2 separate regions of the Homo sapiens genome follow, and region 2 is linked to region 1. Evidence: fine-mapped expression QTL. A gene starts in region 1. The other region holds a variant in brackets. All regions are shown on one strand. Distances are between the middles of the regions. Region 1 holds the start of TMCC3 (transmembrane and coiled-coil domain family 3). Region 2 has its middle 24 kb from the start of TMCC3.

Region 1 (16,602 bases):
TGGTATTTAAAAATTATGTAAAGCAATCCTTTTTAAAGACAGAAGATGGTATAATGGTTAGTCCCAATCAGTCTGTATTAATTACATAATTTTACTGGTTACAGTCTGGCTGGTGTCATTTTCTGCTTCTGCAAATGGAATGGTCTGGAGTTAATAATGTCTAAATTCCCTTCCAGTTCTACCATGGTAAAACCTTGAGTCTAACTTTCCAACCCTCTGCCTTCGTACCTTTAATTCAGTCAAGCCAGGGTTCCACAGGGAGTTCTGGTGTGGACACCGGGCTATGTTTTCTAGTTGCTTTAAACTGCCCTTTGTAATGTTTTTAGTTGGCACAGTCTCCTCGAATGCCTTTAAGACCTGAGGAAGATACAGGTTTACAATCAGCCATTTAAAATGTGGCTTCCTCAGGGGACCGGCACTAAATGGGATGCATTTCAGGAAGCAATCCTTGAAAAGATCTGGTCTCTGGAGAGAACTCAAAGTGTTGGAAATCACACCCACGGTCTCTGCTCAATTGCAGCTCCTGCAATGGCCAGACAGCTACACCACTGTTACATACTGTTATTATTCTTCCTCTCCCATCTGAACATTAACCGAGCATTTAGCAGGTGCTGGCACTCAACAGTGCTTTACACGTACTACACCGTTTAATTCTCACAACAGTCCTCCAAGGGAAGTACTGTGACAACCCTTGTAAAAACCTAACTTTGGTACCATGCGGCAGGGTACACTATAGAAAGTCAACCGGGCCGGGCGCAGTGCCTCATGCCTGTAATCCCAGCACTTTGGGAGGCCGAGGCAGGCGGATCACGAGGTCAGGAGATCGAGACCATCCTGGCCAACATAGTGAAACCCCGTCTCTACTAAAATACAAAAAAATCAGCTGGGAGTGGTGGCGTGCACCTGTAGTCCCAGCTACTCGGGAGGCTGAGACAGGGGAATCACTTGAACCTGAGCAGCGGAGGTTGCAGTGAGCCGAGATTGCACCACTGCACTCCAGCCTGGTGAAAGAGCAAGACTCTGTCTAAAAAAAAAAGAAAGTCAACCGAGGCACATAACTCCAAGACTGGCACTCTTAACCACTCCAGTGCACTCCCCCAAAGTGTGATGTTCTGCAGGGGACACAAGAAGGCATGGTTTAATATTACAAGAGCCTTCACAGAAAGATCACCAGGTAGGTGACTGATGACATGGCTCAAAAGAAGGTGTGAACCCACAGGCCAGTCATGAGGATCTACTGAGGAGACACGTTTGCAGGCATGTCTTGAACTCCATGTTCACAAGGAAGCACCACCTTCACCTTGCTATTCAACAGTCCATCCTCAGGAGACCAAACATCAGGCAAAAACACGGTTCTTTAATGATCTTAAATCATGAGCTTATTTGACAGCCTTTAAGACTTCAAACTACTAGCAAAATTCTCATATCCTAGGCATTAAAGTTCATGAACTATCATTCTGTATCATTCATTCACATGTTTACTGGGAATATATGACTACGTGCAAAAGACTGGCAATGTGCATGTCATAAGAATTAGAGCACACAATTAGGGTAAGTGCCCAGCAGATGCTGTACACATCCTTCCCCAGGCACCCAACTAGTTTAGAAAGACTGGGCTGCTCTCCAGTGTTCGCCACGGAGGCAGACAGGGAAGTGGTAAAGAATCAAGCTCTGGAGTTGAGACATACACAGGTTCAAACCCTAGCTCTACCATAGTTTCCTAATAGCCACAAGATCTTAGAGAAACTAATAATCTGTCTGGGCCTCAGCCTCCCCATCTGTAAAATGGAAAAGTGGGATATTGTGGAAGACCAAGGAGATCATGTATTTGAAGTGCTTCATGTTGCCTGGTGTACAGTAAGCACTCAGTACACATTAACTATTATTGTGACTGCATTCTTCCTTTCACCTATGTTCTTTTTACCTCCTTACAGAGGAATAATCCACAAATATACTATGGTTCCTTTCAGGCAGCACCCCTCCCAAGTCGACGGAAGCAGTTGGCCTATGCACAAATCATATATCCTGATGTTCTCTTTCGAAGGAATGAAAAGTCCTCATTCTGATTCACAGTACAGTGATTCATGGTTCTCTTCCTCTTCTCTTGTCACCCTCCTCCCCTCCACTGAAAACATGAAAACACAATTAAGAAACCACAGGGCTGAAAGCTGCAGACTCTTCTAAGTCAAGCTGCGGGCATTTTCCAAGTAGGACTAGGTTGATTTCTGACCTTAGCAGCAGTCCTGGAGATGCCGGCAGAGGGTCTGAAGCAAAATACACCCTGAGATCCAACTTGGTAGCAGCTGTCTTGGTGATCTCTACAGCGGATGTGACAGGCGGGTGAGCTGGTGGTGGCCGGCAGTTCCTTCTCCTCTAAAGGAAAAGCCTGCAACAAAGTACAGCTCGAAAAACACACACCGCATCACTTTGCTCATCCTAAATGTAAGAAAAACCTGGCTTGAGACACTCACCATTATTCATTCTCTTTAAGAGGCTCTTTAGAACAAAACAAATCACCGGTGAAAACGATATCTGTGTACTACTCAACTTACCACTTCACCGGGTCAGTGTCCTCCAGGACAGAGGTCAGTTTCCACTCCCCCTATTTCCTGCCCAGGGAGTAAGCATGTGATCATCAACTTACTACATCACTGCCCAACCAGTTCCACTGTGAGAAGGGCTACAGCATCCTCTTCTTCACTGCCTTTGGTCATTACTCATCATGTAATTGTAGATGGATTTCCAAACCACAGAACACTTGAAGATATACTACAGGTGGCACTCACGCTTGACACAAGTTTTACTTCAGATGTTAGAGATTTCTGCATGTATTATCATCATGTTCTCCTGTACAAGACAGGGGTATTGTCCGGAACCACAAGAATAAATGAGATACACCCACCAGATATTAAGTTTCCACAGAGACCAGACTGTTTCATTTACCATTGTATTCCTGATGCCTAGATCAGCAGCCAGCACACAGAAGGTGCTCAGTAAGTATTTTTTGAATAAACGAAGCATCTTGCTCTCAAAGTGCCAATGTCTATAGTTTATAAATACATGTAAGCATTAAACATATAAACAGTCAATGTCATGAGAAACATGACGCAAGGAGGCACAAAATGCTAGCAATGCTAGAAAAGTCTATACTTTTCACAAAATTAGCAGCCTTTCCGTTTCTAAGCTCACAAATCCCTCTTTCATATAGTACAGGTCCCCTATTCAAAATGCTTGGAACTAGAAGTGTTTCAGATTTCAGATTTTGGAATTTGTTTTGTTTAGTTTTGTTTCGGAGATGGAGTCTCCCTCTGTTGCCCAGGCTGGAGTGCAATGGCACAATCCTGGCTCACTGCAACCTCTGCCTCCCAGGTTCAAGCGATTCTCCTGCCTCAGCCTCCCTAGTAGCTGGGATTACAGGCACCTGCCACCATGCCGAGCTAATTTTTTTGTATTTTTAGTAGAGACCGGATTTTACCATGTTGGCCAAGCTGGTCTCAAACTCCTGAACTCAAGTGATCTACCCACCTGGCTTCCCAAAGTGTTAGAATTACAGGCATGAGCCACCATGCCCGGCCTAGGAATCTTTGTATTATACTTACTGGTTGAGCATTCCAAATAGAAATATCTGAAATCAGAAATGCTCCTGTAAGCATTTCCTTTGAGCGTCATGTTGACGCTCAAAAAGTTTTGGATTTTGGCTTTTGGATTGAGATGCTCGGCCTATAGTAAAAGTGGTTAACATCTATTGATTTCTTATTGTGCACCCGGCATGGAGTTAAACATTTTATAGACATTACTGAATTTATTCCTCAAAACACCCCTATTATGTAGAAGTAGGAACTAAGGCTTAGAGTGATTACAGGATCCAAGATTACACTGGTAGCAAACAGCACTGGTACAAGATCTGTATTCTGGGGACTATCCTAATGCAAATGGTTCTGTAGGGAAAATAATATGGTCCTTGCATGCAGGATGGAACAGAAGTTGGTGAAGGTCATAAGTGACTAAGGTGGGGGATGATTGGGAGATATGGAAGAAACCAATTCCAGAGAAATGTCAGAGAAAGGTGCGGTGGTATTGCTAATAGGTTAGAGAGATGGGGGAGGGCAGGCACTCAAGATGACTAGCAGTTCTGATTAGTAGTGGCACCAACAAAATAGAAAAAAATTATTAACCTGACATATAGACAAATACAGCTTTTTCACCCAGTGAGAGAACATAAATTTAAAAAAATTTTTTTAAATAGCTAATATTTGAAAGCACACACCTTTTTTTTTTTTTTTTTTTTTTTTGAGAGGAAGTCTCACTCTTGTCCCCCAGGCTGGAGTGCAATGGCACGATCTCAGCTCTCTGCAATCTCCGCCTCCCGGGTTCAAGAGATTCTCCTGCCTCAGCCTTCCGAGTAGCTGGGATTACAGGCACCTGCCACCATGCCTGGTTAATTTTTGTATTTTTAGTAGAGACAGGGTTTCAACATGTTGGCCAGGTTGGTCTTGAACTCCTGACCTCAGGTGATCCACCTGCCTCGGCCTCCCAAAGTCCTGGGATTACAGGCGTGAGCCACCGTGCCTGGCTTTTTTTTTTTTTTTTAAAAAACAAATACTTTCTTATTTAAGACACACAATCACTCCCAGAAGAGTGGAGTATTACCTCTTTTACAGATGGGAAACTGGAGGCTCAGAAAGGCTATTTAGGACCTTGCCCCAGTGGTCACCCAGTTAAGAAGCTCGAAGAGCCAGAATACAACCCACGTAGGTCCAGAGCCCCAGCTGTCCACCACTATACTCAAGTGGCTGGAGAGGGCATTTTAGAACACTTAAAATGAAAACCAACTAAAAGAAAACCTAATTCACACATCATTAATAAAAGCCAGTTACTGTATAGAAAGCAGACGGCCTGTATTCTTAAAAAGATGATAGGCTTTAACTATCTAGGGCATGAAAAAAAAGTAGGAGTCTAATTATGGATGCTCTTTCTTCTAAAGTAGAGAGATATGTGCATCAAGTTAACAAGCACCATTTCTGAGTTTTACAAAGATGAAGTTTTAAAATGTGAATGATCCTGACTTGTCAGCTTAGCAACAATCACAGAATTCATTACTTACATTTTCACTAAGGGGGGAGGGGTTATCTAGGTCAGTCCACCTAGATGTAAAAATAGATTTCTGCAATGTTGAAAGAGTACACTGCCTCATTATTATTCCAGTCTCAAAGGCTGAAATAAGCCCAGCAAGACAGACCATGTAGTTTCCCTGTTATCTCAACAGGTATTGATTTTGAATTTAAAAAATGACCATTCAGTAACTAAGAACTTCATCTCATGGAGTCTTTGCCCACTTCTAGGCAGAAACTCCATATCCCTGAAAGATTAGTCGACTCTTCCCATGACCCCCTAGTTCTCATTGGCATTTTTAGGGGAGCTAATTCACCAAATGAGTTCATAAAAGGGTTCTTTTTAAATCCTATACTAGTTTCCTCCCAAGGAGATGGTGACATCAAGAAATTAGCACTCGATGTCTTCCTCTCGCATCACATACGTTCTGGGTGTCAGGAAAACATATCTTTACAGCTGCATCCAAGTGAGTTCCACAATACAGGAGCTACGATCATTTAAATGGATGAATACTTTCTGCACAGTAAAATTGTTGCTTTCCCTTCATTACAACAGACTTATTGTAGCCTCAGGACAGACTTGAAATTACATCAACCCTGCTTGAGAAAAGTTATTATTATGAGTTTACAAAAATTTCACTAGTTCTACCTATTCCTCGCTGTCTCAACAATAAAAAACCTAAAAGCAGATAGCTGAGAAGTTTCAACTGGGACCTCAAGAAGTCCAGCATCACTGTAGTAGAATTTGTGATTACGGTCTGCTGAAGTTCTAGCCCTTCTCTGATTTCCTCTCTTCACTAGATCTGACTGGCCCAATGTGCTAATTTACGATAATCCGCACATATAATGTCTAACTCAGTTTTAATACACAGCTTATTTAAAAATCGGGTATCTCCATGCTAACAATACAAGGCAGCAGGTACAATAACATTGTCAGTAGAATTGTTTTATTTATTTATTTATTTATTTATTTATTTATTTAAAGACAGAGTCTCGCTCTGTGCCCAGGCTGACGCGATCTCGGTTCACTGCAACCTCCGCCTCCCGGGTTCAAGTGATTCTCCGCCTCACCCTCCCGAGTAGCTGGGATTACAGGCGCCCACCACCACGCCCGGCTAATTTTTGTATTTTTAGTAGAGACAGGGTTTCACCATCTCGGCCAGGCTGGTCTTGAACTCCTGACCTGGTGATCCACCTATCTCGGCCTCTCAAAGTGGTGGGATTACAGGCATGAGCCACCGCCCCCGGCCCGTCAGCAGAATTTTAAAGAAAATCAAGAAATCACATAAGGTTTTGACCTTTTAATAGAAAAGACTGGCGTAGACAGGCAACAGTGGCAGATGCGGCAGAAACACTCTGCAGTTACCTTACACAATTGCTTTACCACATTCCACCTAAGCAGTTGAGGCACAAACTTTATCACCACCATTTTACAGGTTATGAAGAGTGAGTTTTGTAAAGTTGCATGAGTTTTGCCAAACCACTTAAATGAGTTGACAATGAGCCATCCATCCCGCTAAGATTACTAATCTTGTTTACACAAAGAAGATCACAGTTGTGACAAGAAAAAACAAGCTTTCACATTTCAAGTCTGCAATATTAACTTTACAGAATCCTCTCAATTACAAATGCATTCGAAGATGATCTCCTTTTCTTCATAGTTCTGTTAACTAGCATTACAGCTATCCAAGAAGAAATGTCTACCTGTGGGTAAGCACATTTCTTCAATGTTTATTCCAAATGGAGTTTCTGGTTATTTTCACAGCAAACTGTTACGAAACTTATACACAAAGTGCAAAAACAAGAGAATTGTAAGATTGAGATGAGTGCATGAGGTATTATTCCACCAAATATATTCAATCTGTAAAAACTCAAATCATCCTTCCAAAATGATTAACAGATGCTAAAGGAAAAAGGGAAAGCGGGCAAATAAACCAGAGACTCATTGCTTCACTTCTGGGGCAATCGATTACTACTTCAAATTATGAGTGAAGACCAAAATCCTGCACAAAGGGCCGCGACACAACCCCGTCACTATTGCTACTATTTCCATCCAGTTGGTCTCTCGATCTTGGAAGTGGCAGGCCAGAATCTGAGCCCGGCTCTCCCTCCGTGAACTTTACACAGAGGCTGACACCCAAATCCCCAGTTCTCGGACAAGCGAGTAAGTAGTTGGCGGAGCAAAGAACAACTCCAGGTGCCTCCTGCCAGAACAGATGCCAGCGTGGAGGAGGTGCTTTGTTAAATGGCACTTCAATCAGCCCTGGGGAGAACGGGTTACAGAGCCTCACATCCAGCCTCGACGATTCAACAGCCCGGGAGGGCAAAGGTATTCACCGGGGAGGGCGAAGGCTTCCTCTCCCAGGACAGACCCGCGCTTGGGCTGCGGCCTCCGTCTTTATTTTGAAGCCCTACAGGGCTCGTCTCTGCAGCAGGCTCAGAATGAGCTATTTTCGCCCACAGCCAAAATCAGCAACAGCAAATTACACTGCAAACAATGGCGAGGGCGCCTGCTCGGCTCGGCTCGAAACTCCGGAGAGGCAGCGCAAAGATTCTGACTTTTCACTTGGGCAGAGCCCGTCCGCCGCCTCCCCGCGCTCCGGCTGCGCACCGCGCTCGGGTTCCGGCCACACGCCCCGAGGACAGGGAGACAGGGCGGCCGCCGGGACGTTCGGCGGGGAGGGCACCGTCACACCCAGGGCGAGACCCCGGAGACCTGGAGACGCGGGGCCGCGGGTGGCCGGGTGGCGGGATTCCCTCGCGGAGCGGCGGGCGCTCCCTGGCGGGGAGGACAGCAGAGCGCGGGCCGTCGGGGAACCGGGCGTCCCGCATAGCGCGCGGGGACCTGGGCGCCGTGAGGGGCAGGCGGACCTGGGATCCCAGAACCGCAGCCTGGGCTCCGACGCCCCCGACGCCCACCCTTTTAGCTCGGAGGATCGGGGAGGCACGGACCTCCGGCGGCAGCGGAGGGCGGCGGCGAAACGCCGGGGGCGCGTGGGTTAGCACTGAGCCGCCGCCCCAGCCCGCCTCGCCCCCGGGCCCGCGCGCACCCGCCGCCCCCCAGCCCGCTGCGCTCACCCGGCTCTTGCAGCGGTGGTGCCGGCCGGGGTACGAGTAGGTCCGGTCCACGGTGAGCGCCGTGTCGCTGCCCGGCATCTCCGCGCTCCGGCCGCGAACTTTCCCGTCTTCTGGGGCTGCCGCGCCGCGAGCCACCGGCTGTGCTCGGGATCACCCTGGGAGCCGCGGGCGAGGGGGCGGCGCGGCTGCTGCAGCTGTTGCCTCTGGTGCCAACACCCGCGCGGCCGCCCTGCGCCGCCGCCGCCGCGGGGTGGGGGAGGCGGGGCAGGAGGCGAGAGTCTCCTCCCCCTTCCCTTCTCCCCGCCTCTCCCGCGCCCCGCAGCCGCCTGGACCCCCCACCCACCCCCGACCCGGGAGGCAATGTCTTCGCCTCCCTCCCTGGCTGAAAGTTGATTCCATCCCCTCCCACACAGCCCTCTTTCTCCCCAAAAGATAAGCGACATCCACACTACACTATCTGTTGACTTATTTTATATATAAAAGGTGACTGTTACTGCAAGAAGTTGACACTTGCCTTAAATGCCTCTTTTTATGTTATTCTCCATTCAACAGGCACTTACTGGGCAGCTGCCATGTACCAGACGCTGGACTAGAGACCAGAGATTTAAAGTAAAAAAATGAAATAAAATAAAAACTCCCCCCGACCATGATTGCCCTGAGCATAGAGCATACTTCCACTTAAACTAAGATCCTACTGTGTTGTGTATTTTAATTTTGCATATCTGGCTCACCTTTATGTTTCTTTCTTTTTTTTTTTTTTTTGAGACTGAGTCTCGCTCTGTCACCCAGGCTGGAGTGCAGTGGCGCAATCTCGGCTCACTGCAAGCTCCGCCTCCCGGGTTCACGCCATTCTCCTGCCTCAGCCTCCCAAGTAGCTGGGACTACAGGCGCCTGCCACCACACCCAGCTAAATTTTTTTGTATTTTTAGTAGAGACGGGATTTCACCATGTTAGCCAGGATGGTCTCGATCTCCCGACCTCGTGATCCACCTGCCCTAGCCTCCCAAAGTGCTGGGATTACAGGCGTGAGCCACTGTGCCCAGCTTACCTTTATGTTTTAAGCTACTTGGAAGTCAGGATATCTTTTCATTTTAGTATTCCCCATTCCCAGTCATCAGTCCCTGCCCACAAGGAATTTGGAGTTTAGAAGAGGAAGGACCATTGGTGAACAATTTAAATATCAGTAACCCCAAACAAAATTCAAAACACCTGTTCTGGCTCTGTAGGGTGTACAGTGGGAGACTGGGCTGAAATATTTAAAGTGCAGCTGTTCCAGAGAGGACCTGGAGCCCAGTGTGACCAGTCCAGGGGGAGGGAAGGATTTCCCTCATAGGGTTCAAAGGGGACGGTAGAGCAGGCTGAAGAAAACTTTGGAGCCCCTAAAATCAGAGGTACATTTGGGAAAACCTCAAGTCATCAGTTTTGGGGAGTGTCCTCAGGAACAGGAAGACATGATGGAAAAGAAGGCAGAGACCATGCAGAATCTTCGTTCAAGGGTAAGAAGTTCAGCCTTATTCTGTGGGAACTGGGTAGCTGTTGGAAATTCTTGAACAGGGAAATGATAGCATGGGAATGGAAGTTTAAGGAGAAGGTATATCTGACATCAGGGTGAAGCAGCGATTGAAGATGGGCAAAACACACTGGCTTCTTAGAAGGCCACTGTAAAGACAGAATAGCCTAATTATCCTTCAGAAGGAGACTAAGTAAATAAATGATGGTACATCATCCAATAGAATATTAGGTAACTGGAATAGAAATGAGGCAGCCCTCTATGAATAGCTTTGGAAGCAAATCTAACATACATGGTTCAGTGGAAAAAAAGCAATGTGCAGGATAATATATATGGCATTCCACCATTTATGTAAAAACAATATATGTTATGTGCTTCTACATGCACGACATATATCTGGGAGGATAAATAAGAAACTAGGGAAACAGACAAGAAATTGATGCCAAGAGAGGGGAACCAGGTAGCTAGAAGGCAGAGATGGAGAGAGATCTAATTTTCACTGTGTATACTTTTGAAACTTGAATGTTTATACTGTGGGCATATATTAACTATTCAGAAAGTAAAATTTTTTAAAAAATGTTTTTTAGAGATAGGGTATCTGTTGCCCAGGCTGGGGTGCAGTGGCACAATCATAGCTCACTGCAGCCTCAAATTCTTGGTCTCAAGGGATCCTCCCACTTCAGTTTCCCAAGTAGCTAGAACTACAGGTGTGTGCCACCATTTCTGGCTAATTTTAAAAATATATTTTTTTGTAGAGAAAGGGTTAAAACTAACTTAAGAAGAAATTGAAAGTCCCATGTAGTCCTTAAGCCATTCAAAAAATTAAATCAACACTTTTAAAAATACCCATCTACCACTACCCCAACACACAACTATACTAGACCCAGAGAGTTTTTCAGGTAAGTTCTTTGAAAGAAGAGAAATACCAAACGCTGGGGTGTGTGTGTGTGTGTGTGTGTGTGTGTGTGTGTGTTGGAGGGAGATTTTAGCTAGGGTGGCTAGAGAAGTCCTCCATGATAAGGTGACCTTGAGCAGAGACTTGGGAAATGAGGAAGCCAGAAGTATAGACATTGAAAATTTCCAGCAGACAAACAGAAAGTCAAGGGCCCTGAACATTTCGGGAGTGTTCAAGGAAGAGCAAGGAGGCCAGTGTTCACTGGAAAGAGATGAGGTCAGAGACATTTCAGAGGGCCAGATCATATATGGACTTTCATTCTATTTTAAGAACTTTAATTTTAGGCAGGGCGTGGTGGCTCACGCCTGTAATCCCAGCACTTCAGGAGGCTGAGGTGGGCCGATCACCTGAGGTCAGCAGTTCAAGATCAGCCTGACCAACATGGAGAAAATCTGTTTCTACCAAAAATACAAAATTAGCCGGACATGGTGGCGCATGCCTGTAATCCCAGCTACTCAGGAGTCTGAGACAGGAGAATCGCTTGAACTCAGGAGGCAGAGGTTGTAGTGAGCCAAGATCATGCCATTGCACTCCAGCCTGGGCAACAAAAGCAAAACTCTGACTCAAAGAAAAAAAAAAAAGAAAAGAAAGAACTTTAATTTTGGGGAATATGGGAAGATTTGGAAATTTTTGAGCAAAGGAGTGGCATGATCTACCTTTTCACTTGGATGAAAATAAAATTGATCTCTACCTCACAGCATAAACAAAAACCAATACCAGATAAAGGAAAAATAAAGAAAAAAAATTAGCTGGACATGGTGGCTTGCACCTGTAATCCCAGCTGTTCAGGAGGCTGAAGCAAGAGGTTCACTTGAGGCCAGGAATTCAGCCTGGGCAACAGAGCAAGACCTGTCTCTAAAAAAATTAAAAATTAAAAAAAAAAAACAGATTAAAGACTTAAAGTGGAAAAAACACAACTTAAAATTGTCAGAAGAAAATGAAAGAATATCATTATTATCATCTCAAGTAAAAAAAAAAACAAGACACAAAAAGCATAAACCACAAAGGTTTGACATTAAAAAAATTAAACTTCTGCTTATGAAAATAAACAATAAAGTAAAAAAATAAGCCACAGACCAAACTCCAGCTAAAAAAAAAAATCAATATGGACAAATTTCACAAACAATACTGAGAAACAAAAAAAGCAAGCCACAAAAAATTACTTGCAGTAAGATTCATGTAGGCTGTGTGGTAGCTCATGTCTATAATCCCAGCACTTTAGGAGGCTGAGGTGGGAGGATCACTTGAGCCCAGGAGTTCGAGACCAGCCTGGGCAATATAGTGAGACCTTGTCTCCACAAAAAAAAAAAAAAAAAGATTCATGTAAAGTTTTTGTTTGGTTGGTTTTTTTGTTTGTTTGTTTTTGGTTTTGAGACAGAGTCTCACTCTGTCGCCCAGGCTGGAGTGCAGTGGCACGATCACAGCTCACTACAACCTCTGGCTCCCAAGTTAAAGTGATTCTCATGCCTCGGCCTCCTGAGTATCTGGATTGCAGGTGTGCACCACCATGCCCGGCTAATTTTTGTGTTTTTAGTAGACATGGGGTTTCACCATGTTGGCCAGGCTGGTCTTGAACTCCTTGCCTCAAGTTCAAGTGATCCACCCGCCTCACCCTCCCAAAGTGCTGGATTGCAGGCGTGAGCCACCACGCCCAGCCTTCCTGTAAAGTTTAAGAAAAGCAAGAGGATAATAAACACAAATTTCAGGACAGTATCTCTGGTGGGGAGATGAAGAAGGCTTCAATAGAAAAGGGGTACACAATTATAAATATATAATGCTCTTTAACAAATGACTGTTGGTACACTGGATGTACATTCATTCATACATACACACAATAGTGAAGAATAATTTAAAATTTTAAAGGTAACAGAGTCTCAAAGGAACAGATATGGTGATATCCTTAATTCTGGAATTCAAATCACCAGTTAGGGGTACCTTCTCAAATAAATAAACATAATAGCACTTTACGTGTGAATAAACTCAGAGAGGCCCTGACAAACCAGGGTTGGGCTTTGCTTGGGGGTACCAACAGGCATCTACTTTCCATTTCTATTACTGTCTTGATGTTTCTTAGAATTCCATCCTGGAATGCTGACCCTCAATGAGAAGGATAAATTAAAACTTTATTAGGCTCATTTAAATGTCAATTAACAAAGGATGTTCTTTTTTAGATCATTTAAATTTATTTCATAAGCTAGTTGCCCAAAAGCTGCTCTGCTGGGCACTCATACAAAATTATTTTTTAAAAATATACAAATTAAATAGCAGAAGAGCAAGCTCCCCAGAACAGAAAGAAAACAAGCAGTGCTGATCACCATCTGGGTCTCCTTTTGGGAGGCAGAACCCAAGGGGAAAATAGACCACATCCCCTCCTTTGGACGCAATGCCAATGCCTAGGGTTTTGTCAGCCCTGGAGAGAGAGAGAGAGGGAGAGCGCAGGTGCAAATTCCTCCTGTCAATGTAAGAATTCTGTGCTTTTGATACCTCCAAGAGCCTCTCTCTGCAGAAAGTATGGAAAATATCGCACTGTTAAAATAACAAATGCAGTCAGAACAATAAGAAATACAAAGGTTCATACCTAAGGTGTGAAATAAGAATTTACTTGCAAACTATAAGGAAGGAGCACAACAAGACAGCAGATGCTAAAAGCACCAAAGAAGAGACCAGGTCATTTGAGCTGTAATAGTTTAAAGTTTGGAGTGAAAGGCCTATGGAAAGAGGTAGGACTACACTTGACTTTTGTAGTGCGTGTTTGTTGTTTCAGCCTGCCCAGGATCCCACCCCTTATTCTGAAGACAGTACCTAGGTTTTCTATTGGGACCTACCCTACTCCTACTTTTAATCCAAATGGCTTAGATAAGGTGGACCATTCCCATCCTTGGATCTAGAGAGTGGCATGTCATCCAGCCTTGGCCAGTCAGAGTCACTGTGGCTTGTGCAGGGATGGGCACATGAGCTAATCAGAGCAGATGAGAGTCATCCCCAGACTTTTGTCAGAACTGCTGGGAAAGCCTATGCCCTTCCAGTGGGCATTGCTAAGCTGGTACAATGCAAGCCTGATGCTGTAGTGGACATCCTTCCACCATATAAAGACAGCCTCCCTGGGAAAGCAGAGCCATGAAACGGAGAAAGACTTCTTACTAAATCCTTAGAGCACTAGATCCAGCATTTTCCATCTGCTATCGCTGCATGACAAACCACCTTAAAATGCTTTGGCTTGGCCAGGTGCAGTGGCTCACGCCTGTAATCCCAGCACTTTGTGAGGCAGAGGTGAGTGGATCACCTGAGGTCAGGAGTTCGAGACCAGCCTGACCAACATGGTGAAACCCCATCTCTACTAAAAATACAAAAATTAGCTGGGAGTGGTAATGGGCACCTGTAATCCCAGCTACTCAGGAGGCTGAGGCAGGAGAATTGCTTGAACCCGGGAGGCGGAGGTTGCAGTGAGCCAAGATCACGCCACTGTACTCTAGCCTGGATGACAGAGCGAGACTCCATCTCAAAAAAAAAAAAAAAAAAGGTGTTGGCTTACAACAATAACTACCTCTCATTAGCTCATGATTCTGCAATCTGGGCAGGCCTCCAAGGGAGGTGAGGTGGCTTTTCTCTGTTCCATGTGGCACTGGGGGGGGGGGGGTAGGGTGTCCAAGATGGCTTCATTCATATGAGTGACATTATTATATATATATATACATTGGTTTTCACCCATGGTTCCTGGCTTATAATTACCAATGCCCCTGTAATAGTCTCTTGTCATGATTTTGGGGCACTTTAGATCCCAGAAGCCAGCCTCAGAAGCCTTATCCTACCCTTGTTCCAGCTGCTCTTTTCTCTCCTGAAGGAAGGAATCTTCCCCCGCCTTTCTGTCATGCAGCTGGCCATGAAGAAATTCTCTGACCTACCTTGTCTGACTGTAGGACATAAGGTTCATTTTAGAAGGGGTCCTGCTCCATACCCTGGAGGAAAGAATGCTGCACAGAGAAGCCAAGAAGAATCTGAACAGACAGGCCTTGCTGGGTCTCGCCACTCAGTCTCTTAGTACTAGATCATATACCCTTTTGTCCAGTCACATTTCTACATGGTTGTCAATCATGCCCACCCAGTGACGTCTCCATAAAAGGCCGAAGAGTACAGGGTTCAGGGGGCTTCTGGATAGCTGGACATCTATGGAGGGTGGTGTACTCAGGGAAGACACAGAAGCCCTGCGCTCCTTCCCCTACCTCGTCCCATGCATCTCTTCATCTGTATCCTTTCTGATATCCTTTATACTAAACCGGTAAATGTAAAATATAAGGTTCCCTGAGTTCTGTGTGCTGCTCTAGCAAATTAATCAAACCCAAAGAGGGGGTCATGGGAACCCCAACATGAAGCCGGTTGGCCCGAAGTTCTGAAGGCCTGGGCTTGTGACTGGCATTTGAAGGGCAGTCTTGGGGACTCTGCCTTCAAACTGTGGGGTCTGACGCTATCTCCAGGTAGAGGTGGAGGACACCCAGCTGGTGTCCAGAACTGATTGCTTGCTTGGTGTGTGGGGAAACCCCTCTCCCATATTTGGTCACAGAAGTCTTCTGTGTTTATTGTTTTTGTAGTGTGAGAACAGAGGAAAAACATAGTTTGAGTTGATTTTTCTACAAACAACGTGTCAGCACCTATAAGACTTAGGGTGGCTGGAATGGTGGGGGCTGGCCGGGCCTCTGTCTTTATTTTTATATGTTTATAGTTTTTTAAAAAACTTTTTATCTTACTCTGTCACCTGGGCTGGAGTGTGATGGCATGACCATAGCTCACGGCAGCCTCAAACACCCAGATTCAAGCTATCCTGCCACCTCATTCTCCTGAGTAGCTGGGACTACAGGTGCATCAGCACGCCTGTCTATTTTTTGTAGCGACAGGGTCTTGCTGTGTGCCTAGGCTGATCTTAACTCCTGGCCTCTCCCACCTCAGCCTCCCAAAGCTGGGATTATAGGCATGAGCCACTGTAGCCGGCCTGTTTATACTTTTTTAAATACTTTTTTTTATAGTCTCTCATCTCTCCATCAGGGTAGTTGGATTTTTTTACATGGTGGCTGCCTTCTAACACAGCAAAAACAAAAGCTGCCAAATCTCCTAAGGCCTAGCCTAGAACTGGCAGATTATCACTTCCATCACATTCTACTGGTCAAGGCAAGTCAAAAGTCCAGCTCAGACTCCAGGGGAGGAGAAACGGGGTCTACCTGTTGAGGGAAGGAGTGATGTGCACATAGATGGGAGAAATTGCTGACTGCCATTTTGGCAGCCAATCCACCACACCAGCCTTGCCTAGACCACCTTTTCAGTGATATGAAGCAATGGATTCCTCTTTTTGCTCAAGCCCGTTAGAGATGGGGTTTCTGACTCCTGCAACCCAAAGAATCCTGTCTGATGCAACATTCAATGCAGGGTATGGGCAGAAAGAAGACAAGGAAAAGGGCAGCATTTCAAGAGAAGGCAAGAACTTTGAACAGCACAAATAAAGGGAGAATCAACAGAGGATTCTAGTGGGGGCACCAAGGACTCTAGAGTTTTCTCAGGCCACTAGCTTGAGTCTTCTGTGGTCAGTCCACACCAGATTACCTGTGAACTGCTCAACTATTTACAGTCTGGACTAATTATTTCAATACAAAGGTTATAATACATTATATTCTTTAAATATTTCATGTGATAATTTCTATGCTTCCCCCCTACACACACTAGAGTATAGGTTACCTGAAGGAAAGGACTGTACTTTCCAGGTACATGTAGGTATTCTGGACAGTTCTTAACATAGTATTCAATAAATGTTTGCTGAGTGAATGAGATCAACATTATTAAATGTCTACTTATTTCCTAGGCATTGGGGTTTTAAAAAATGACTCCGACATAAGCAAAAACTAGTGTCTGTTCCTAAGGGGTTGGAATGGGTAATAGGAAAGGATGAAAATTCACTGAATGAT
Region 2 (16,602 bases), 25 kb after region 1:
GGCGGATCACTTCAGCCCAGGAGTTCAAGACCAGCCTGGGCAACATGGCAAAACCCCATCTCTCCAGAAAAATACAAAAAGTTAGCCGGACATGGTGGCTCGCGCCTGTAGTCCCAGCTACTCGGGAGGCTGGGGTGGGAGGATGGCTTGGGCCCTGGAGGTCAAAGCTGCAGTGAGCTGAGATGGCGCCACTACACTCCAGCCTAGGTGACAGAACAAGACCCTGTCTCAAAAAAAAAAAAAAAAAAAAAAAAAGTTATCAGGAAATCAAGAATATAACATGTAGGTTTTTCAGAACATTAGCAGGATTTGGTCATTTGGAGTTTACAACAACAACAAGCTTCCTTTTCAATTGCTAAAAGGAACTGAGGTAACGGAAAAAACAAATACAAGATCCAAGAAGATGCTGACCAATTTATAGAGCTCTATTTTGAATTTCTGCTTCAATGAAAGAGACAGAAAATCCATAAATTTCATTGCTGCTTCTTGACACTCACGATTGCAAAACCATTCTCTGGATAAAGCTCTACTGAGATGGGGCTTTTCCCATTGTCCATTGTTTACCTCTAATCCTTTTACAAAGGGAATCGTACTTTCCACAATCCAAAAATGTCAGAATGTTTTACATATAACCAATTAGAAGACAGATGATTAGAATATGGATTATTCATAAAACCCCAGCCCAGGACCTATTTAAACTACTATGCTTTAAATATTTTCCCTCATTTAGATATCAAGATGAAGTGTACAATAAATGATTGTCTGAATCTGCATACTGAATACAGTAGATGCTGGTCACATGAGCGCACCGAGGACTCGAAATGTACCTATTGTGACTGAGGAACTGAGTTTTAAATCTTACTTAATTTTAATTAATTTACACCTTAAAGACAGTACAAACAAAAGAAGGTAAAATATCTCATAAATATTCTATACTGACTACATGTCAATATGAATCACAGAGCCCATGTTTAATTATCAAAATGTCAAAACACAGAGACTGACAAGTATTCTTCACATCTCATTATATAAAATGAGCCAAACATGAGCTAAACATACAAATACTAGTACTATACATGGCTCTGGGAGGGATCCCAAGGGATCTCTCAGGTTTAAATTAATCCTCCTTCCCTGGTAGCATCTTATGTATAGCTTTAGCATCATACTTACCACAGTCTAATTTATGTGAAGTAAATTGTACGTACGTCTACCACGCCTCCCTTTAGTAGACTGTAATCTTTTTAAAATAGAGGACTTACTTGCTCATTCTAAAAATCCATCAGTCCCCAGCATGGTTGTTATATTGGAAATCCTTCCATAAATGTTTGAGGATTTAAATACAGTGTGTACTAATATTTTTTAAACATTCGTTTTTCTATAAAAGCAAGCCTAAAACTAATATTAAGGTCATACTCATGGAGGAAAAGATGCAGTATCAAACAAATGTCAGTTTTCCCTAAAAGTCAATCAATAAATGAAACACAATCCAGTAAAAAAGGATTTTTCCAAAAACTTGACAAGCTTATTTTAAAATTTGATGGAAGAGGCCAGGCACAGTGGCTCACGCCTATAATCCCAGCACTTTGGGAGGCCAAGGCAGGTGGATCGCTTGAGGCCAGGAGTTGGAGACCAGCCTGGCCAACATGGTGAAACCCTGTCTCTACCAAAAATACAAAAAAGTTAACTGGGTGTGGTGGCACGCGCCTGTAGTCCCAGCTACTTTTCAGTGAGCCGAGATCATGCCACTGCACTCTAGCCTGGGCGACAGAGCAAGACCCTGCCTCATTAAAAAAAAAAAAAAAAAAAAAAAAATCAGCGTAAGAGGGGCCAGGCGTGGTGGCTCATGCCTGTAATCTCAGCCCGTTGGGAGGCCAAGATTATTGGATTGCTTGAGACCAAGAGTTACAGACCATCCTCGGCAACATGGCTAAATCCATCTCTACGAAAAAAAAAAAAAAAAGCTGGGCATGTGGGCATGGTGGCACTGCACGCCTGTAGTCCCAGCTACTTGGGGAGGCTGAGGTGGGAGGATCGCTTGAGCCCAGGAGGTGGAGGTTGCAGTGAGCCAAGATCGGGCCACTGCACTCCAGCCTGGGTGACAGACCGAGACCTTGTCTCAAAAATAATAAGCAAACAAAATGAAAAATAAAATTCAATGGATGAAAAAATACAACTTGGGGGAAAAATATGGGGAGTAGGGGCAGACAGAGTGAGCTCTCCCTACCAGGTAGCCAGACATTTTATTGGCAATAGTTCAGGTGATTAGGAATTGGCACAGAGACCCAGGAAGAGAGAGCTCAGAAACAGGCTCATGCACATATGAAAGCACAATCTAGGATGGAGGTGGCATCAGAAATCAATGTGGAAAGGAAATAATTGGTAGTTCATATTGAAAAGAGTGAAACTGCAGTAGATCCCTGAATACCAAACCAAAATTTAAAATGCAGGTGCAATTGTTTCATCTCAGAACATTCTTGGTTTTTTTGCTGTTGCTGTTTTTGCTTGTTTTGCTTTTTTTGAGACGGAGCCTCACTCTGTTGCCCAGGCTGGAGGGCAGTAGAGCAATCTCTGCTCATTGCAACCTCCACCTCCGGGGTTCAAGCGATTCTCCTGCCTCAGCCTCCTGAGTAGCTGGGATTACAGGTGCCCACCACCATGCCCGGCTAATTTTTGTATTACAGGTGCACACTGCCACCCCCAGCTAATTTTTGTATTTTTTGTAGAGACGGGGGTTTCACCATGTTGCCCAAGCTGGTCTAAAACTCCCGATCTCAACTGATCTGCCCGCCTCAGCCTCCCAAAGTGCTGGGATTACAGGCGTGAGTCACTGTGCCCAGCCCACATTTTCTATTATTGATAATTCATTGGGAATTCTAGATGGACTGTATAATACATAAATTATACATTGATATCCATTGTTCCTACTTGATCAATAAATAGGAATAAATTAAGAACAATAAAAGGAACAAATGATTTTTAAGAAACTATCTTGAAGAGGCCTACACCACAGGGTACAAAAACACATTTTTTTCCTTCTTTAAAGTACTGAATCAAGCAAAAGTCCCTTATGGCTTTATAAAGGTCACACTTTTAGAATGGAGCTGGAGGCCATCAAATATACAGAGGGACTCCATGACTGTGCAAAGTACTTCTAAAGACTTCTTTGAAGCTAACTCTATAAAGCTGAAACCAAAATCCAGCCAAACAATGACTGCTCTGGTGCTGTTAACAGCACCTCTCCACTCATCTCCATCTGGGCTGTTAACCGAGCGCAGCTTGGCTTTATCTTAATTCACCCGGATCGAAGCGGGTTAATTCTCAGCGTAACCCCATGCATCAGACATTCCTAGCATTCAACATCAGCATGAACACAGCTCTCTGAATGCCACATAGTTTCCTTACACTTCCGTATGCCTGAACCTGTGGTCCAAATTTTTCCCTGACTTCAAAGGAGGTCAAAATCCCAAAACTGGGCTTTGATGGGGAAAAAATGTTCCAAAGACGTCATACACCTAGAACATGTTTCACACACGTGCTAGATCATCTCTCCAGAGAGTTTATTTCCTGCTTGAAAGTGGTTTCACCTGTTTTTCTAGGTCTCCTTCTTGGATTCTCCTGTTTGATGCTGCGGCGATCTCATAACAGAAATGTGATATTGCTATAACTATTTGTATTACTTTGCTCAGGCTGCCATAGCAAAATACCACAGACTCGGGGGCTTAAACAACAGAAGTTTATTTTCTCACAGTTCCAGAGGCTAGAAGTCTAAGACCAAGGTGCCAGCAGGGTTGGTTTCTCTGAGGCCTCTCCCTTTGGTTTGCAGACAGCTGCCTTCTTGCTGTGTCCTCACATGGTCATCCCTGGTGTCTCTCAGTGTGTCCAGGTTTCCACTTCTTCGGTTTTTTTTGTTTTGTTTTGTTTTGTTTTGTTTTTTGAGAAGGAGTCTCACTCTGTGACCCAGGCTGGAGTGCAGTGGCACAACCTTGGCTCACTGCAACCTCCGCCTCCCGGGTTCAAGCGATTCTCGTGCCTCAGCCTCCTGAGTAGCTCGGATTACAGGCTCATGCCACCACGCCCGGCTAATTTTTGTATTTTTAGTAGAGATGGGTTTTCACCATGTTGCCCAGGCTGGTCTGGAACTCTTAACCTCAGGTGATCCGCCCAGGTGGATTACAGAGGCGTGAGCCACCATGCCTGGCTGGTTTCCTCCTCTTACAGGGACATCAGATAGATCAGAACCCAGCCTAATGGCGTTGCTCTAACTTCATTACCTCTTTAAGGGTCCTATCTCCAAATGCAGTCACATTCTGAAGTACTAGGGTCTAGGGCTTCAACATACCAATGTTACAGGGGCACAGTTCAGTCCCTGACACCACTCATGCGATGATGAACTTGGCAAATGTATGGAAGCAGCTGTGCCTGGAGATAAGGGGGAATAGCAGCTGGGGAATGAGAGAGTAGGGATCTTGAAACCTACAAAGAAACTCCACATTCCTGGGAAAATAAAGCCCTGATTTCCTTTGTTGAAATCTGCTCATTTTGATTAGGTACTTTCTTAAACCCCTACTTTAATTTTGCATAGAGATAGAGCTACATAAAAATTTCCATCCAAAGAGATAACTAAAGAGGTAATGACCCATAGAATGTCTTTAACAGCTCTTCCTAGTATGCAGTCTTCTTTTCTTAAGAACAGCTACAATTCTCAATATGCCATTTCTCTGCATAAAGTATATGTGCACAGCCTGTGATATATGAATAGAAAGGGAGAGTGTGGGGAGAGGAACAGAGGAGATGAGGGAACAAAGGAAGGCAGTGAATGGAGATTTTTAAAGAAAGAAGTTCAGTGTGAAAAATACACACAAACTCCTGAGAGGTAGGAATGTACTGCAAAGATGCTTCTCTGAATGAGAAGCCAGGGCAGGCCCAACCAAGTGAATTTCTGGTATGAAAAGAGGTACCAGGAAGGAAAAAGAAGTATAAAGTTTTTAATAAGACCAAGTGATTCAGTTTTGAAATGAGATATAATCTAACTTAAAGGACTTGGGAGACAAGTGAGAACGTGGAGTTATCAGTGGAGACAGTACCATAGCAGCTGGGGGCAGAAAGTTCTGCCTTTGTCTGTGGGTTTTGCAGGTCAAATAAACAGTATCCCCAAAGATTCAAACCTGAGGCTTGCAAAGGACTCTCCAGTTCCAGATTCTGGTGTTAAAAGTCTGTATCATGCCTAAATAAATATATTTAAAGAGCTGTGGCCAAAGATGTGGTTTTATAATTACATATTGATTTATATTGGATTTCTTGGTTGGCTGCAGAGTTTGGAATCTTTCCAGCATTACTTTCTTGCCAATTTCTAGGTAGCTTATAGCAATTTCAAAGTACCTCCAATTATACATTTTCAACAGATGGGATTATTAAATGCTTAGTGCAAACAATGATCCATAGATGTGTTACCACCCACCAGTAGACAAAGCCGAGCTTCTCTCTGCTCCACTCTCATTCCAATAAATATTTACATCCTTCCATTTACTCATTTCAAGACTGTAGGATATGGAATTTCATTGCTCTTTTAAGGTGAGTGCAAGAAATTGTTAATGGTTTCTGGATTTTCCAATTAACTTGCTCTCAGAAGAATTTATCTTTAGTATAAATAACAGAATGGTTCATGGTCTGTAGATATTTTCATCTACACATCCAAGTATGGTATCAATTTTTAAGTAGGAAACTTTTTTTTTTTAAGCATTTATACTTTTAAAGCCTAGACTGTAGAACTTTTCAGAACAAGGTGTGTGGTTCAGCCTTCTTTTTCAGATGAGGAAACTTGAGGCACAGATATGTAAAATGGCTTGCTACTTGGTAGCAGAGCTGAAGGAATAGGCAGTAGAAGAGGGAGAAGAGACTCTGCAGTTCGTGTGGGCACCTGCTGGGTGGCCAGGTTCTCATCTTTGTGGCTTCACAAACACACACCTTGCAGCCAGCATCCTTGTCACAAACTCAGGCTAGCAAGGCTGAGACGGAGACAGGTTAGGACAGTGGCCCGCTGTCATTCACAGTAAGTGATTTAAACCCAAGTCTGTCTGATACCCCAGACCAACCCTTTTCCATTTCCCTACACTGTTCCCTAAACAGAACCAAGTTATATTATTGAGTTTAAAACTGATATTTATAATGGCATTAGATAAAGTTAGATTCAATAGCTTCTCCAAACCCTAGGTTTATTTTCTAGTATTCAATCTCTGAATTGTTATTGGTTTCTGTTTTGGCAGCATAACTGACATTTACTTAAGAAAATATGAATTAATACATATTTAGGTGTAAATCAAGTGAAAGCCTAGCTGTTTGACCTTAATTAATCATTAATGGAAAAAATTCCCTCATCCTTTGAGCCTTTCTATTTTGAATGCAATTATTTAAATGAAAATGTAGGGCAGTCCTCTTTACCATGTCTTACCCGAATAGGAAATTCACGGAGTGTATCTCATACGTCCATCCCCAGTGTTCACGGTGAGAGACATGAAAAGGTACAAGAATCAGTCAGCTAGTAAGTGATTCAAACTCAAGACCACCTGACACCCGAAACCAAGCCTTTTTATTATCTAACGTTTCCCAGGTAAAGGAAGAAATACATACAAGGATGTATAGAATGCACCTTTAAGACATTATCAAGCATATTCAGATGTAAAAGCTTCTTAGAACCTTGTGCACTGGTATTCAATTTCTGTGAAGCTATTCGTTAGAAATAGTTTTACTTAGCAGAGAGAAAAAAATTATAGTTATTTTATATAGTTAGGTAATTAATTACTCACCCACAGCTAAACTCGCTGCCAAACACAGGTGGACCACAGGGCTATGAGGCCTAATGCTTCACACCTATTAACCCAAAATGCAGTGGACACAAAGGGCATCCTTAACCCCCATATGGTAATTCTGAACTGCACGAGCAATTAAGTAAGAGTGTGACCTATTACCACTGACATAAAAACAGCTCAAAGGCCATGTACTATTTACTATTCATAGGAGTCCCGTGGCATACATTGGTTTTCAAAAGACAGCAGGTGACATTCATCAGCAGACTTTCTGTGTCCCTCTGCTCACACTTACAGCACAATTTTAGAGTCTCAGGTTAAGGCTGTTTTTCCTTAACAATACTCAATTTTCTTCTGAATCACTGAGAAAATCTAAGTCTACCGTGGGGTCATCCTCAGTAGACTGGAAATGGGGAAGAGAATGTGAGCTTCTTTTGTTTTTATATCCTCCTGTCCATAATTAGGCAATATTTTTAAAAGAGAAAAACAAAAACGTTCCAAGCACAATAACCTTGATGCCGTTCTGTAATCCAGAGTGGCATACTGGCAAACTGGGTTATTATT[T/C]TTTTTTAATTTCAGATAACCTTCTCTCAATTGTCAAGGGTATATTCAGCAAATCAAATCGACTTCCCTCAGCATCATAAATCCCATTTGTATCCTAGTAGAAACACACATTTCCTGAGAAAGGGAGCTGGGTCTTAAAAAAGGAAGTTGAAGTTTTTAAGCTGGAGATAAGGCATTTCAAAAGGGAAGAAACTTTTGGCAGGACTCGAGTGCATCCTGCACTAATGGAAATTGGAAACCCATCCTTCATTTCATGAACATTACTATACAAAATGTAAAACATATTGGTACCACAGCAACCAACTCTGCATAATGTACTTGCAGCTTCAAATGGCAACCCTGGGGGAGATAAAAGTTGATTTTTTTTTTTTGCTATCATGAAATGTTGGAATTTCTTAATTCCACAGATATTAGCAAGTGTATATTTCATGCCAGGAAATGTTCTTGGCTCCAAGGATATAGCAGTGAACACAATTAGGTTGCTGGCTTCATGGAGTTATATTTGGAGGTGGGAAATTTTAAAAATTACTGTATAATATAGCAGATTAGAATATATAGGGATGGTATAATATATATTATGGTATATTAGTATATATATTTATCATTATTACATGTGTCACATATAGAAACATAGTATATAATACCATATTATGCAATATAACAAAATATGTCAGGTAGATATAGATCATATCAGATGCTAGTAAATTTTAGAAAGCAGAGAAAAGGGGATAGATGAGTGTTGCATTTCTGAATAATATGTTTTGGGAAGTTCTCATGGATAGGCTGGGACACCTAACTAGAGAACTGAAGGAAGTGAGGGGGTGATACATGTAGAATATCTAGAAAAAGACCATTCTAGGCAAAAGGACCAGCAAGTGCAAAAGCTCCAAGGAAGGGGAGCACTTGATCCATTTGAGGAACAACAGCAAGAAAACCAGCATGGGTGGAGCAGAGTGAGCCGAGCAGGAGAGCGGGGAGGGTGGAGATGAGGTCAGAGAAGCAGCCTGGGGTTAGAAGAACAGCAGCGCAGATCCTGTGGCATTTTCTGGCAGAGTAAGGACTTTTTATGGGGGGGCCAGGGTGGAAGCCGGGAGGCTGATCAGGAGGCTATTGAAACAGTTCAACGTTTCTCTGCATCTGTCCCAGACCGTTCCCTTCCCATCTTGCTTTCTCTCCCAGACCACTGCTGGCTTTTTTTTTTTTTTTTTTTTTTTTAGATGGAGTCCCACTCTGTTGCCCAGGTTGGAGTGCAGTGGAGCAATCTCGCCTCACTGCAACTTCTGCCTCCCAGGTTCAAGCGACTGATTCTCCTGCCTCAGCCTCCCAAGTAGCTGGGACTACAGGCGCATGCCACGACACCTAATTTTTGTTTTTTTGTTTTTTGTTTTTTTTGAGATGGAGTTTCGCTCTTGTAGCCCAGGCTGGATTGCAATGGCACGATCTCGGCTCACTGCAACCTCCGCCTCCCGGGTTCAAGCGATTCTCCTGCCTCAGCCTCCCGAGTAACTGGGATTACAGGCTTGCGCCACCATGCCCAGCTAATTTTTGTATTTTTAGTAGGGACGGGGTTTCACCATGTTGGCCAGGCTAGCCTCGAACTCCTGACCTCAGGCGATCCACCCGCCTCAGCCTCCCAAAGTGTAATTTTTGTATTTTCAATAGAGACAAGGTTTCACTATGTTGGCCAGACTGGTCTTGAACTCCTGACCTCGGACGATCCGCCCACCTCAGCCTCCCAAAGTGCTGGGATTACAGGCGTGAGCCACCTGCCCGGCCATGGAGCCTCTTGCTCCTATGTCTCTTCTGACCTCCAGCCTTACTCACCCATCCATCCAGTTCATCTACACATGGATGGCTCAGTATGTTCAAGTGTGCCCGCCTTCCTCCATGCCCCTCTGGCTCCTCTAGGATCCCACCTTTCAGCAAATGGCACCACCACTTAGTTGCTTAAGACTTCTCTTGGGAGTGTCCCTCCTTTAACACCTCACATCCAGGGACTCACATCCAGAGTCCTGTTGCCGCAGACGCATTTCATTTCCTTTCATGATAACACAGAGGAGTAGAAGGGGCCAAAGGCATAGGAGGAAAACAAGAAAATACAGTGTCACCGGAACCAGGGGAAGTGTGTTGATAAAAGCAGTGGTTAGCATGTACTTCTCACTGTAGCAGACACTATGCTCACCACTTCCCACAAACTATGTCATTTAGACCTCGCTACAATCTGAGGAGGAAGGTGCTACGCCCATTTTGCAAATAATTTAGAGAAGTAAATTTCCCAAGGTCACAGTGTGTACTAAATCCCCTAAGAGAAATAAATTGAGTCTGAAAAACTCAAGTCCACTGAACTGAGTCATGTGGAGACCACCGGTGACCTTAACAAAAACCTGGCCAGTGTCCAGCCGGAAGAAGAGTGAGAAACAAGAGGGAGATGAGAAAATAAGGACAGGAAGTTAGCCAACTCTCTCCAGGGTTGGCCTGCAAAGCAGACAAGGAGGAAGATAAGGCTATAGTTGAAGGGAGGGCAGAGGGGCTGGGCACGGTGGCTCACGCCTGTAATCCCAACACTTTGGGAGGCTGAGGTGGGTGGATAACTTGAGGCCAGGAGTTCCAGACCAGCCTGGCCCACATGGCGAAAGCTTGTCTCAAAAATAAAAACTAAAAAAGAGAGTGCTGGGGGAGTGTCTAGGGAAGGTTTTATTTTAGGTGACAACAAAGTAATTTAAATTTCTAAAACTCAACCCCTTTGCAGAGTGTGGGTTAGCATGTCTATGTGAGCAATCAGCACAGAGAAGGTATTTGTTTTCTCTGCTTCCTGCTCCAAGGAAATTCAGATTTTGCTTATGAGTTTGGTTTAAAAAATCATTGGCTATGCATAAAATTTGCGTCCCATATCCTAGAAGATGGGAAAAGCTATAGAACAGAAGGTGTATAACTGGGTCAACAAAATAAACAAAAAGAGGATCTACTCTGGTTTTCTTGGGAAGCTGAAAAATCAGTGCTTTAGAAAAAACCAGTCAAGCCAGACTATTCTGTCACAATGTGGTGGAGAAACCCCAACACTGAACCCAAAAGCAGATGACCTAGTGGGCTGCTCTTTCCGGCCAGCCACTGTCTAGCTTTGTCATCTTGTATAAGTCACTCAATTCAGGGTCAGCATCCTCTGTGGATCAAGGAGCTAATATTTATTATGCCACACTTGGTTCTGGGCAGAATCAAACAACTGAATCAGCCAGAAGATTGACAGAGGATGCATGATTTCAAACAACTGAAATCAGCCAGTAAAAACGCTTTATACAAATGCAAGGTATTCCCAATATCTATCATAATTGAAGGTAAGCATTAAAAGATACTTATGGGCTAGGTACAATGGCTCACACCTGTAATCCCAGCACTTTGGGAGGCCGAGGCAGATCGCCTGAGCCCAGGAGTTCGATACCAGCCTGGGCAACATGGTGAAACCCCATCTCTACAAAATATACAAAAACTAGCCAGGCATGGTGGTGTGCACCTGTAGTCCCAGCTGCTCGGGAGACTGGGGTGGGGGGATCACCTGAGCCTGGGAGGTTGAGGCTGCAGTGAGCCGTGATGGCACCCCTACACTCCAGCCTGGGCAACAGGGGAGACTCTGTCTCAAAAAAAGAAAGAAGATATTGTACACAGTCTGGAAGCAAGCTGTTTGGATACATGTACATTCACCAACTGATTCAAGATTTTTAAAAAATTCAGTGATAGCTTAACAATGCCAGATATATAACAACAAACACCTGCATATTTACTTTTCATTACAGCTGGTGCTGTTGAAGCTGATTTCCAGTGAATCAGGTTAAGCCAGGCCTAAACTTGTGGCCATGACTGGTCTGTGAAAATGCTCAAAGTGTGACATACTTTCAGTTTGCTCTGGATCTCACAGCATACCAATTCAGTACACAGGTCCTGCCACAGAGGTGTTTCTGGCCTGTGATTTAATAAGCAAAGAAAAACCAGTACAGCCAGTCTAATTATTAGAGCAGCCAAGCTTTCAGACTCTCTTAAATACTTCCAACATCAGGCCTCCCTCAGGCAGGGCAAGATTACACATGACTCCAGCCCGGTACCAATTCCCTAACTGTCCATTTCCTATGGAGACATGGATATGGCCTTCTCTAATTAGAGGGACAAAGACAGAAGAGAACCATTATTAGGACTTTACTTTTTATCCCGTTTTAGTTCTAAAACATTCAAGTCCTGCCCTTCACTGATCACTATTACAAATATTAAAATGGGGGTAGGAGTGGTGGATTAAGTGCCACAGAGACCGAATGCATCAATTGTTTCACTTATGGAACATTCTGGGCTCTGAGAACCTCGGAGTAGGAGTGAATCAATCGTACATCCAAGCAGATAACAGCTCAAATCACCAGCTCAGCACAATTCTTCTGGGCACCCTCTTCTCTATCTGCAAAAAGAGACTGGCTTTCCTTCCTCCTCTTGCCCTCCCTCCTGCCCCCACCCCACCCCCGCCGCGCCCTAGGCCTGGAGTCTAGGGCTGCCCAATGACAGGAACACCCAAATCAGCACTGTCTTCTGGGCTGCGTTGGCTTCTGTGGTTGTAGCTAGGAATGGCCAGCAGGGCGGGGGTTGGGTGGGGTGGGATGGGGGCCGTGGGGGTGGCTGCACAAGGAATCATACACCTTTGGTAATACACTTACCGTTTACAAAAAGTTGAGAGTCCACATAACCAGGAATGTGTAATTCATGCAGCTTCCTAAAACTGCCAGGGAATTATTCTTGCCTCCAAGTCAGCCCTGGCTAGGATCGTAAGTATTATAAATGCAAAAAGAATAAAAAAAAGACAGTGCAATTCTTATTTAGTGGGTATTCAGCTCTCAAACCTGAGGGATGGACTAGGAGATTAACATGATGCTCACCAGCCTCTGAGACCTTCCACAAACGCCCTCTGACCAGTCTTTCCCACCTACCCTCCTGCACTCCCGCACCCTCTGCCCTGCAGTCATTCTGCCTCACTCACCGCGCCCTGCACGTGCCTTGCCTCTCCCTTTGTGCTTTTGCAGGTTATGGTTCCGCTGCTGCATAGAATAATCCCTCCTCTCTCACAGAAATTCCTCCCATCTGGGCCCAGATCAAATGCTCCTCCTCAAAGAAGACTTCTCTGATTGCTAGGAGCAGTATCTCCTTCTTCTTGCCACAAATAATATTTTGTTTACAGCAATAATAAGAGCTACTTATTGAACACATACTATGGGATGGGAATCCTATGAAGCACTTGATACATTTTATTTCATTTAATCCTACTACTATTCCTAGTTATAGGTGAGAAAGCCATGATTGAGAAAGGTTAAGTACTATCTCTAAAAGGGCAGTGGCGACACTGGACTTGGTCAGGCAGTTGGACACCAGAGCTCCCACACTCTACTACACGTTGCCTTATACTGTAATGATTTGTGCAAGGGTCCCATCTGCTCTGTGAATTTCTGAGGTCATATATCTTCAGATATCCCATTATATGAACTCATGGCTTGGCCTAAGTGGTCACTGGAATTGGAGCAAAAGTGCACTTAGAGACAGGTTGCTATGGCTGATTCTTCCAGGTATGCTATTTTATCTTTAACCCAGCTCTGACCTTTAGGATGGGTCAAGAGCAGCAACTAAAATGGCCTCACAAAGTCAAGGATCCAAGACCCAGGAAGCAGGAGAAATCTGACCCCTGGAATGCTCTGGAAGCACTGAGGGGCCCCACAGGATATGGGCACCATTGTGTCCTAATTTGGATAACAGGTACCTGAGACATACAAGCCTGTCTCTGTGCATATCAGCTAGATCTCTTAGAATGGTGAGTCCCGGAGCCAGGGGCAGGGTAGCTTTCTTTTCCAGTATATAATAAATGCACACTTGTTGCAGTCAATGTTTCTTCAGACTCGGTTTTCAGTCTCCCAGAGAATAATAAATTCTTGTTGAGAGGATAAGACAGCATGGCTCAAAGGTTAAAAGCAAATGGGCTCAATGTTAAACAGAATCAGTCTGAATGAGTCCAACTTTGCCCCAGTATTTGTGATCTAGGACACGATACTTAATGTCTGTACTTCAGTGTCCTCGTCTGATAATAGAGATAATATCACCACCCATTCATTCATAAGGTGACTAGGAGGACAGAGTGAGATAATGCATGTAAAGTGCTCACTATACTCCACTCAAAAACGGTTAGCTCTTATTATTTAACAATTGCTCTTTTCACTAATGCTAATTATTGTTGTTGGTTAGTCAATTTATAGCTAATGAGAGTACATTTTCCATCTGAAAAATTCTTTACTAAAATTCACTGGTTAGTGTTACTCTTTTCTGCTCTACAGAGCTAGCAGTGAATATAGAGATCAACAATTCTGAACATAAAGAATGAGAAGATATGCCAGGCATGGTGGCTCACACCTATAATCCCAGCACTTTGGGAGGCTGAGGTGGGCGGATTGCCTGAGGTCAGGAGTTCAAGACCAGCCTGACCAACATGGTGAAACCCTAAGTCTCTACTAAACCCTTAGTCTCTACTAAAAATACAAAAATCAGCTGCGCATGGTGGCAGGCACCTGTAATCCCAGCTACTTGGGAGGCTGAGACAGGAGAATCACTTGAACCCAGGAGGCAGAGGTTGCAGTGAGCCGAGATGCCGAGATTGTGCCACTGTACTCCAGCCTGGGCAACAAGAGCGAAAATCCATCTCAAAAAAAAAAAAAAGAAAGAAAGAATGAGAAGATATATAGTGATATGGTTTGGCTGTGTCCCCACCCAAATCTCCTCTTAAATTCCTATGTGCTGTGGGAGGGACCTGTGGGAGATAACTGAATCATGGGGGCAGGTCTTTCCCATGCTGTGCTTGTGATAGTAAATCTCACGAGATTTGATGATTATTACAAGGGGGAGTTTTCCTGCACAAGCTCTTTCTTCCTGCTGCCCTCTCTGTAAGATGTGACTTGCTCCTCCCTGTCTTCCGCCATGATTGTGAGGCCTCCCCAGCCATGTGGAACTATAAGTCCAATTAAACCTCTTTGTTTTGTAAATTGCCCAGTCTCGGGTATGTCTTTATCAGCAGCATGAAAACAGACTAATATATATAGCCTGGGCAACATGGTGAGACTCTGTCTCTACAAAATATAAATAGCCAGGTGTGGTGGTGCATGTCTGTGGTCCCAGCTACTTGAGAGGCTGAAGTGGGAGGATCGCTTGAACCCTGGATGTCAAGGCTGCAGTGAGCCATGTCTGCACCACTGCACTCCAACCTGGGTGACAGAGTAAGACCATGTCTCAAAAAAAAAAAAAAAAAGATATAAACATTAGAGGTACCACCTAACAATTAAAGCTGTTCAAAATATGGTGGCCTCTGAGAAAAATGAGCTGCCCCCTTTCCCTACCCAGCAGAAACTGCCTCCTATGGCCATTACATTTGGTTCAATTTAAGACCCTGATATGGTGGGGATTTGTGTCCCTGCCCAAATCTCATGTCATCCCCAGTGTTGGAAGAGGGGCCTGGTGGGAGGTGATAGGATCATGGGGGCAGTTTCTTGTGAATGGTTTAGCACCATCTTCCTGGTGCTGTTCTCATGAGAGAGAGTGAGTTATTACTAGAGCTGGTTGTTTACAAGTGTGGAGCACTGCCCCCTCTCTCAATCCTGCTCCTACCATGTACGATGCCTGCTCCTGCTTTGCCTTTCGCCAGGAATGAATGCTCCCTGAGACCTCCCCAAAAGCAGATGTCGCTATGCTTCCTGTACAGCCTGCAGAACTGTGAGCCAACTAAACCTCTTGTCTTGATAAATTACCCAGTTTCAGGTATTTCTTTATAGCAGTGCAAGAATGAATTAATACAGAACCCAATGGTCTTACTTCTTCTAATATCCTATTTTGCCCCAGCCACTTATGGTGATGATTCTCAAACTTTGGTGGACGTAAGAGTCACTTAGTGTGTTTAACAAATACAGATTCTTGTGTCTATTTGGGATTATGATTTAATTTTATTTACTTTTTAGAGACAGGGTCTTACTCTGCTGCTCAGACTGGTGTGCCAAGGCCTGATCATAGCTGACTGCAACTTGAACTCCTGGGCTCAAACGACCCTCCAGCCTTCCCTCTTAAGTAGCTGGGACCACCGGTGTAAGCCCAACTGGGATTATGATTTAATAAAGAACATCCCAGGTGGTTTCTGATACCAGTGGTCCTGTGAACCAATTCTCAAAAACAGGGTCAGTAACTGACAACTTAGAAATATTTTTCCGTGTAGGCTGGGCGCCGTGGCTCACACCTGTAATCCCAAGCACTTTGGGAGGTCAAGGCAGGAAGAACGCTTGAGGCCAGGAGTTCAAGACCAGCCTGGCCAACATGGTGAAATCTCGTCTCTACTAAAAATACAAAAATTAGCTGGCTGTGGTAGCATGTGCCTGCAGTCCTAGCTACTCAGGAGGCTAAGGCTTAAGAATCGCTTGAACCCGGGAGGCAGAGGTCACAGTGAGCCGAGGTCGTGCCACTGCACTCCAGCCTGGGTGACAAAGTGAGACTCCATCTCACAGAAAAAAGAAAGAAAGAAAGAAAGAGAAAAAAGAAATATTTATCCGTGTAAATTTATTTCCTGTAACAGAAAAAGATGGAAAAACTTTTAATTCTCCAAATCTGGGTCTGCATTTTTTGAAAATAATGTTCCCTGAAGCCTAATCCTTGGATTCGATAATAATGAGTTTGTCTATTAGTTATCACTTATTCTGGTGAGTAATTTCTAAAGTCTCGTTTTACTTCCTTTTTTTTTTTTTTTTGAGGCAGAGTCTTGCTTTGTCGCCCAGGCTGGAGTGCAGTGGTGTGATCTCGGCTCACTGCACACTCCACCTTCTGGGTTCACACCATTCTCCTGCCTCAGCCTTGAGTGGCTGGGACTACAGGCGCCCACCACCACGCCCGGCTAAATTTTTGTATTTTTAGTAGAGACGGGGTTTCACCGTGTTAGCCAGGATGGTCTCGATCTCCTGACCTCCTGATCTGCCCACCTTGGCCTCCCAAAGTGCTGGGATTACAGGCGTGAGCCACTGCACCCGGCTAGTCTCATTTTACTTCTCATTGCTGATGAAGCACCAGTTACTTTATTGTTTCTTCCCAAGGCTGTGTACTGGTAATAATTTTCTTTAAGAGAGGCCAGAATCTTGACATGGTCCTGATTCTGGGGCCAGGAAGCCTCAGTTTTGCTTTATTACAAGCTCTGAGG

Evidence for each region. PIP is the estimated chance that this variant, and not a neighbour inherited with it, causes the effect.
Region 2: its variant is the best candidate, but not a certain one, in a credible set for the expression of TMCC3 in whole blood (TOPMed, PIP 0.89).

The regions. Positions count from the first base shown.
Region 1 is chr12:94,642,164-94,658,765 of GRCh38, forward strand. TMCC3 (transmembrane and coiled-coil domain family 3) reads right to left here and starts at 8,394. Exons shown (of 4, transcript NM_020698.4): 1 at 8,190-8,394. The coding sequence starts at 8,267. LOC105369914 (a long non-coding RNA gene) reads left to right here and starts at 4,275. Exons shown (of 2, transcript XR_945225.4): 1 at 4,275-7,440; 2 at 8,742-8,839. RefSeq lists silencers at 7,638-7,767, 7,858-8,327, 8,348-8,517 and an enhancer at 7,846-8,561.
Region 2 is chr12:94,666,681-94,683,282 of GRCh38, forward strand. No RefSeq gene overlaps it. Among named protein-coding and RNA genes, the nearest start is that of TMCC3, 24 kb to the left of the region's middle. RefSeq lists enhancers at 9,290-9,399, 9,990-10,099, 16,576-16,602. The variant T/C (reference allele first, on the strand shown) is at 7,368.